Homo sapiens: one gene and its partner. The protein of the gene in region 1 interacts with the protein of each later gene in a biochemical or structural test. Each region holds a gene or a part of one and is shown on either strand. Other genes may lie near its edges.

Region 1 (3,909 bases):
GGCCGGGGCTACGGGGACCCCGTGGGAGGAGCTGGAGAGGTGCAGGCCCAGGGCGTCGTCCGAGTGAGCAGCGGTGCTGGCCGTGTGGGACCCGGGCCCGCTTAGCACCATGGACGGGGTGGGCTCACGACCCTCGACTGCGGGGCCCGGGCGGCGGCGCTAGCAGATCCAGCGGATGAAGCGGTCGAAGAAGCCGGGTTGCGCCAGGCTGTCATAGTCCTTCTCGTGGAACACGGCGGCGCGGTCACCCAGGCTGAGCGTGGTGAGCACGTCCATGTCCACGTCGCTGCCCAAGGCCAGCACGGTGGGTACCACGTTCTGCTTGCGCATGGAGTGCGCCGACTCGTGCAGACTGTCGTTGCCCGTGACGCCGTCCGTGAGGAACACGAAGGACAGCTCTGCGTGCCTCCGGGCCCCGCCACGCGGGCTGCGCACGATGGCATTGATGGCGTGCACCACGCCTGCGCCCACGTGCGAGAAGGAGTTCAGGTATTGTGTGGTCTCCAGCGCCTCGTGGATGGCCGTGAGGTTGTGGCTCAGCGGGAAGGCCACCTGCTGCTCGCCGGGGCCACCAAACTGCAGCAGCGCCACGCGTGCGTTGAGAGGGTCGTCGTCCCTCCGGGCCAGCGTCAGCCGCCGCGCCACCTGCTCCACGAAGCGCCGGGCCTTGTGGAAGTTCTGCTCACCCAGCCGCTCGGAGCCGTCCAGCAGGAAGACGATGTCCACGGGCCGCTGCGTGCACTGTGCCACGGACAGCTCTGTGGGGAGACGCAGGTGCGGGCTGGGCGGAGGGGAGGTGGGCAGGACCGGGCAGGTGCCAGCCCCGCACCTGTGCCCTTCCATTCGCACCCTGCCTGCAACCTCACAGACCACTGGGCTCTGCGGGGGCGTTTCTGCAGGGCAGCCCTGGGTGTGGGTCCTTAGCCCAAGACACTTTCAGGCGGCACTGCTGGGAGCCGCCATCTCCTCTGCTGGTGCTCCCAGGCCTGAGACCCTGACACAGGCCCCAGGCCCTGTCCACCTGCTGAGCACCATCCCTGCACAGGCTGCCCTCCTGGGAGGGAAGGGGCCCAAAGCATCCTTTCATGGCTCAAGAATTTGCTGCCCACAAAAGGGCCACTGTCTGTGTAGTGTGGGAGGTACTTAAGGAGGACCCTGGCTCTGACACCCCCAGCCTGACCCCTCAATCGCTGGGTCCCAGAGCTGCTCAGAACACCTAGAGCTGGCTGGGCCACGTCCCTCCCGGAAAGACCAGGAGCCCCTGACTCTTCTGATTGGCCATGGTGGGGAGCAGTGGGCACAGGGGCAGCCAGACCTTCTGTGGCAGCCCAGGTGGGTTCTGCCCTATGACTCTGTTACCAAGTGGGGCCCCCACCTGCCTGGGTGGTCACCAGCCCTGGGCATCGGGGACAGCTTGGGGGCCTGGCCATAGCCACAACCCAGGCCAGGCTGCCTACCACACGTGTGGGTGTCACGTGGGGCCAGAGACCACAGGACAGGACACGGACAGTCCTTGCGTGGACCTGGCCCTGTGGCCTCACCAAGACCTCAGCTCCTGGGATGGGGGAGGGGAGGGACAGAGCCAGTTTCCCCAAGGGTGTCTGCTTCTCAGCCCAACCCCTGGACGTCGTCACAGCTGGTACATGGACCCCCAGGAATGCACACAGAGGACCCTGACCCGAAACTCGGTTTCTGGGGGCCCTGGAGGTGCAACGGTCCAGCCCCGCAGGCAGTGAGCAAAGCTCTGAACACAGCAGGGTGACCTCACGCTGCACCGCAGCCTTCACAGAACGCTTGAGACATGGACGCCGTCTGAGCACGCACGAGCTGGCAGATGGGGTTCCCTCAGTGAGCTTATGAGTGACGCAGCTCATTCAGTGAAAGGAAGGGCAGCCTCCCTGTTAAGGCCACACCTAGGAACCGGCTTAAATGTCCAGAAACTCCTCAGGTACCGCTGGGCTTCCCAAACCCCCTCAAAACTAATAACATTTTCACTGCTGTCACCAAACATATGGAGACAGACATGCAAGGGGCAGCTGGTTTTGGGGGTCTCTGTCCATTCATCAGTGTCTGTGGGGCCTGGAGGAGACGGGGAAGCTGTGGGGGCCGGCCAGGCACAGGGAGGCTGAGGCTGTTGGGATGTCTGTGGACTCTGCTCTCCTCCTCCTGTGGAGGATCCTTCATCCCCACAGTGGGAAGACCAGCCTGGCCTGCCCTGTGCAGTGGGTGTGGGGACGAGAACCTGGCCCTGAGAAATGGTCACAGCCGTGCCCGGCAGGAGCCCAGCCTGGATGAGGGCTCCTGCAGTCAGAACGTCGGGGTCAGCTCGCCGTGGGGGCCGCTCCCTTTGGATGGTGATCCCTGCCGCTCCCCAACATTGTGGACCCTGGGATTCTCTGCTCAGTCCTCTGAGGACCGCAGAGGTTGTGCCTGGTGGATGCTCCCCCGACTGTGCTTTTGGAGACCCAGAGGTTGGGCTGGAAGGGTGCAGACACCCCGGGATCAGGGCTGCTGGCAGGCAGCTGTGGCCATTCGCCCTACTGTGCATGACACCAGCCCAGATACGTCATGGTGCCAGGACTGCCAGCTTCCCCCAGGACTATCTGCTGCCCAACCGGAAGCCTTCACCTGCCACCAGGTGGGCCGTGAGCGCCCACGAGTCACCATGCACGGGATTAGTGCCCACACCCAGCGAGGCTCACCAGCCTCTGGGGCCTGTTTCCGAGGCTCCGCTGGAACCTGGTGCTGGAACATCCTCCAGCACCTGGGCAGCACCCTCCCTCAGCCCCATCCCAGACGCACGGCAGCCCAGCTGGGCCGCTAAGTAAGGGCCTCCAAAGACTTCCACACCCAAACCCTGGAGCCTGTGAGGGTGACCTGATGCAGCAAAGAAGGACTCTGCAGACGGGAGTGAGTTAAGGGTCTTGCGAGGTCATTCTGGACTTGGGGTGGGCCTTAAATTCAATGACCAGGGTTCTTATAAAGAGAGCGGCCACAGGAAGACGGAGGAGAGACTGGAAGATGCAGCCGCAGCAAGGGACACGGTGGCCACCAGCATGGGAAGAGGCTGGGAGCTGCCCCAGAGCCCCTGGAAGGACTGTAGCCCCGCTGACCCCGATTCCAGATCTCTGGCCTCCACTGAGAGCCAGCCTGTCGGGGGCAGCCCTGGGAAGCTAGTGTGGCAGGGAGGGCCCAGCCCGGCTGGGCGGGTGCCCGGGCTTTAGCAGAGGGCCAGCGCGGTCTCGGGGTCCCCCACGATGTCCCTGTGCACCAGCTTAAAGGTGTCAATGAACAGCTCCATCCAGTCCTGCCGCTCTACCCCGGTGGCGAACTTGGCCCGCTCGGCGGTGTAGACCAGCACGGCCACCAGCTGGGAGTAGGCGGCCGGGTCCTGCGTGAGCTCCGTGGCGTTTAGCAACTGTTGGATCAGGGGAATGGTCCTGGGGAAGGTGGCGTCCGGCCCCTCTTCCGTGCGGAGGAAGGTGACCGGGGGCTCGCCGCCAGGCCACGGTGCATCTGCAAGGGAGCGTCCAGAGAAGACTGTAAGGCCTGCGGTGGGCGTCGGCCTAGAGCTCCTCCTCGGGCAGCCGCTCAGCGAGGCCAGAGTGAAGAGCGGCATTTGGGCTGGCGAGTCGGTAGAGGAAATGCAGGTGGAGCGGGTGTGTGGCTCGGCCTTGGCAGGAGGCGTGGGGGCAGTGAGCACAGGGACAGGAAGCTGGCAGGGAGCTAGGAGACCCGCACGGTGGCACCTTTGGGGGACACCACGGACCCCGAGAAAACCTTTCAGCACAAAACAGCTCCGTCCAAACCTGTGCCGGAGACAGGCCAAACTCCAGTAGGGCTTCCAGTGCCGCAGGCCCGTCGCCAGGAAGACCCCAGCCACCCCTCAAGAGCCCGCCTGAGAAAGCT
Region 2 (3,809 bases), on another chromosome or scaffold:
GAAAACCCCTGGGATAGACACCCAGAGGTCACGGAGGACAAGTTGGAAAAGATGGTCCTCTTGGGGTGCCAGATGGGAGAACAGCTTTTCAGGGTGTGGATGCTTCTGAACAACGTGCACCCGGGACAGCTCTTTGGAGGCCCCAGTGGCCTGGCCAGACCCCCTCTTATGATACAGGCCTCGGGGGCCAAGGTAGGGGCCCCAGACAAAGCCCTGCTCAGATCCAGCCTCAGTGTGGGGAAACCTTCCATCCTGAAAATGTTTTTGTCTAAATGACCGCCGGAATCCCAGCAAATCCTTCCAATTCGGCCCCAGAACCCTCCCTGCCTCGACACACCAAGATGTCACGGAGGAGTCTGTTCCCTCCTCCTTTAAAATGCTTCCAGCTTCTGTAAATGGCTCTTCTGGAGGGAGGCGCCTGTGATCTTGTGTTTTGAAAGCCAATTCGCCAAACTTGTTTCCTGAGGGGATTGTTTAGAAAAGGGGAGAGAATCCTCACTTGGTGGTTTCTGCTCCTTGTATCATTTGGGTTTGTCATGAGCCACAGGGAGCAGGGTTTGAGCCTTTTCTTGGTGTTTCTGCTCTGCTTTGTTCTGCTGCCTGAAGGATAAATGTGTAGATTCGGAAGCAGTAATGACCAGACCTCCTGATAACAGTCACAGGGGTCATTTATTAAGCACCTGCTGCATACCAGGCTCTGTGCTTGCATTCATCCTCCCTCTTCTTAACAGGGTGGGGTTTGTATCCACTTTTGGCCCTGGGCCTCTCTGAGCTTTGTCCTAAAAGGGGCTCACACGAGGATCCCCTCACAGAGATGGAGTGAGGATTAAAGAGCTGACGGGCATGGAGGGAGCAGCCAGTGTCCAGCTCCAGAGAAGCCCTGGATAAATGGGAACTGATTGCAGCCCCTCAGCCCTGTGGGGACATCCAGGCCGCTGGCCTCAATGACTTGACTTCTTCAAGTGACACCCTCCTTACTGTGCCCTCAAAATGTTTGATGGGTGTGAGGGAGAAGTTAATATTTACAAATGCAAGTATGTGTGATATGTGCTTCCTGGTGACTGCGATAGGAGGTATGGGGTAATGATTAGCAATTTGGAGACACGTTTACGACCCATCTGCAGGGAGAAACAGCCCGCGTTCTGATTCAGCCATGTGTGTGCTTTCAGGACCCAGGAAGTGCTTCTGCCTGCTTGGGCGCCCTGTGTCTGTGTAATTAATTGATAATTAACCACTTTGGCTTTCTCCACACTTGGTGATCTTTAGTGTCTATCTAAAACTGACACCAAAGAAGACCGCAGATTCAGAAAAGTATCCCTTCCTTTCAAATTTAGCACTTGGCACAGATTAGACCCTGCTGGAATATTTGTGGAGAAAATGAAAAATATGAAGTAAATTCATAAATACCTGAAGAGAGAGCTTTGGATATGAATAAAGTCTGGGTTAAAGTTAGATCTGTTTTTGCTTATTTTTGTGAAGCATCTTCTGTGTTTATCCAAAGCAAAACTGCTTCTGTTGCCTCATTTAATCCTCGCTGCATCCCAGAAAGGAGAAATGCTGCTGTTCCATTTTACAGACAAGGAGCTGGGTGTGCCAGGCCGCCCCTCTCATGGGCTGAGCGGCCTGGTTCCAGCTCTCATGGTGATGCCACGTTGCTGCTTACTCCCTGCACTGACCTCTATAAACGCTCTCTCTGAGGTTGGCACTGTTGCCAGGGGAGGCAGGGTAGAAACAGTTAATACCAAGGATGAGATGGATCGTTAATTTTGATCCTGTGCCCAAATTGCTGGAAGTCACCCTGTGTGGAGTGGAGAAGTTTGAACTCAGGCCTGGACTTCCCTCTGGGCCCTGCCCCTACACTGTCTGACCTCACATGGGTCCTCACCTCTCCCAACCTTTGCATCCTGCTCTGTAAAATGACAATAAGGACACCGCCCTCATTAATCCTTCCACATTATTGGAAGGATAAAAAATAATGTCTCAGAAGGTTCTTAACGTGTCACACACTTATCGTTAGTGATTGTCATCTGAGTCATGTCTCCTGATTATCGATGGTCCTTTTGTAGCCAAACCCTCTGCCCCCGTGGTATCGGGCCCTGCGGCGAGGGCCACACCTCAGCACACAGTGAGCTTCACCTGCGAGTCCCACGGCTTCTCACCCAGAGACATCACCCTGAAATGGTTCAAAAATGGGAATGAGCTCTCAGACTTCCAGACCAACGTGGACCCCGTAGGAGAGAGCGTGTCCTACAGCATCCACAGCACAGCCAAGGTGGTGCTGACCCGCGAGGACGTTCACTCTCAAGTCATCTGCGAGGTGGCCCACGTCACCTTGCAGGGGGACCCTCTTCGTGGGACTGCCAACTTGTCTGAGACCATCCGAGGTAGAAGACCCTCACCCAGCCCAAGCCCACACCTGACCGCCAAGCCCACCCCCCACCACCCTCCACTCATCCAGCTCTACTCTTGCTCCAGGGCTTGAAATGCCTGGAACCTAAATTCCTAACTGCCCACCTCCCATGCCCCTAGATGTGCCAGCCACTTACTAACATTTTAATGGCAGTGGCTGGGTGACCACACCACCCACCAGGTGCCAAGGACTGTGCTAGCCGTTTCATTTATTTCACTGATAGCAAACACAGTTAATGAGTACCTACTATGAACTAAGCCTCTATGTGCTTGGTGATTTTCTTTATTTTGCTACAGTTACAACATTCCAACTGCATGCCAGGGGTGGTGCTTATAGATTTCCCTCATTCTTAGCCTAGTAGGAGCTACCAGTCCTTGAGCACCTACTGTGTGCTGGGCGTTGTGCTTAGTAATTTCATTCATATGCAAAGAGCACCCTCAATGTCTGAGCACCTGATGCCTGCCTAGCTCTGTCCTGGTGATGACCTCACCGTGGTGGGGGAGCTACGTTATGGAGCCCTCCCTGTGATCTGTCTGTGCCACAAGGTCAGAGCTTCTGCCCTGTGCTGTTTCAGTTCCACCCACCTTGGAGGTTACTCAACAGCCCGTGAGGGCAGAGAACCAGGTGAATGTCACCTGCCAGGTGAGGAAGTTCTACCCCCAGAGACTACAGCTGACCTGGTTGGAGAATGGAAACGTGTCCCGGACAGAAACGGCCTCAACCGTTACAGAGAACAAGGATGGTACCTACAACTGGATGAGCTGGCTCCTGGTGAATGTATCTGCCCACAGGGATGATGTGAAGCTCACCTGCCAGGTGGAGCATGACGGGCAGCCAGCGGTCAGCAAAAGCCATGACCTGAAGGTCTCAGCCCACCCGAAGGAGCAGGGCTCAAATACCGCCGCTGGTGAGGCCTCTATTTCAGCTGACCCAGCTTTTTTAAACTTTTAGTTTTGTGGGTTTTTTAAATGTTAAAAGTAGTAATTCATGCTTATTATAGAACAATCTAGAAGTCTATAAATATAAAGTAGAATTTTAATGTCAGCTCCATTTCCCCAAATCCCACACTCCAAGAGTCACCACTGGTAAGAGTTTGATGCACATCTTGATAGATCTTTTGACATAGATTTATATCACAGGAGGAAAGAGGGAGAGAGGGGGCCCATCTGTTCATGGTGTCCTGCCTCTTGCCTTCTTCACCTGACAGTTGTCATGCTCCCCATTCCTCACTGGCCCAGCCCCTCTTCCCTACTCTTTCTAGCCCCTGCCTCATCTCCCTGGCTGCCATTGGGAGCCTGCCCCACTGGAAGCCAGGGTGGAGTCATTCAGGGTGTTTGCAGCTTGTCTCACATACAGTCAGTGCTTCAGTGAACATCCTTGTGCATGTTCCATCCCACAT

The links.
Region 2: the proteins of COL6A2 (region 1) and SIRPA form a complex in vitro, tested with the Homo sapiens proteins (one large-scale study listed by BioGRID).

What each region holds. Positions count from the first base shown.
Region 1 is NC_000021.9:46,128,803-46,132,711, reverse strand, and holds part of COL6A2 (collagen alpha-2(VI) chain isoform 2C2 precursor), read right to left. Parts: intron 3,810-3,909; coding exon of another isoform or gene 3,784-3,809; exon of another isoform or gene 3,517-3,783; coding exon of another isoform or gene 3,221-3,516; exon of another isoform or gene 2,911-3,220; intron 759-2,910; coding exon 160-758; 3' UTR 1-159. UniProt on the Homo sapiens protein: Collagen VI acts as a cell-binding protein.
Region 2 is NC_000020.11:1,919,329-1,923,137, forward strand, and holds part of SIRPA (tyrosine-protein phosphatase non-receptor type substrate 1 isoform 1 precursor), read left to right. Parts: intron 1-2,066; coding exon 2,067-2,384; intron 2,385-2,984; coding exon 2,985-3,317; intron 3,318-3,809. UniProt on the Homo sapiens protein: Immunoglobulin-like cell surface receptor for CD47. Acts as docking protein and induces translocation of PTPN6, PTPN11 and other binding partners from the cytosol to the plasma membrane.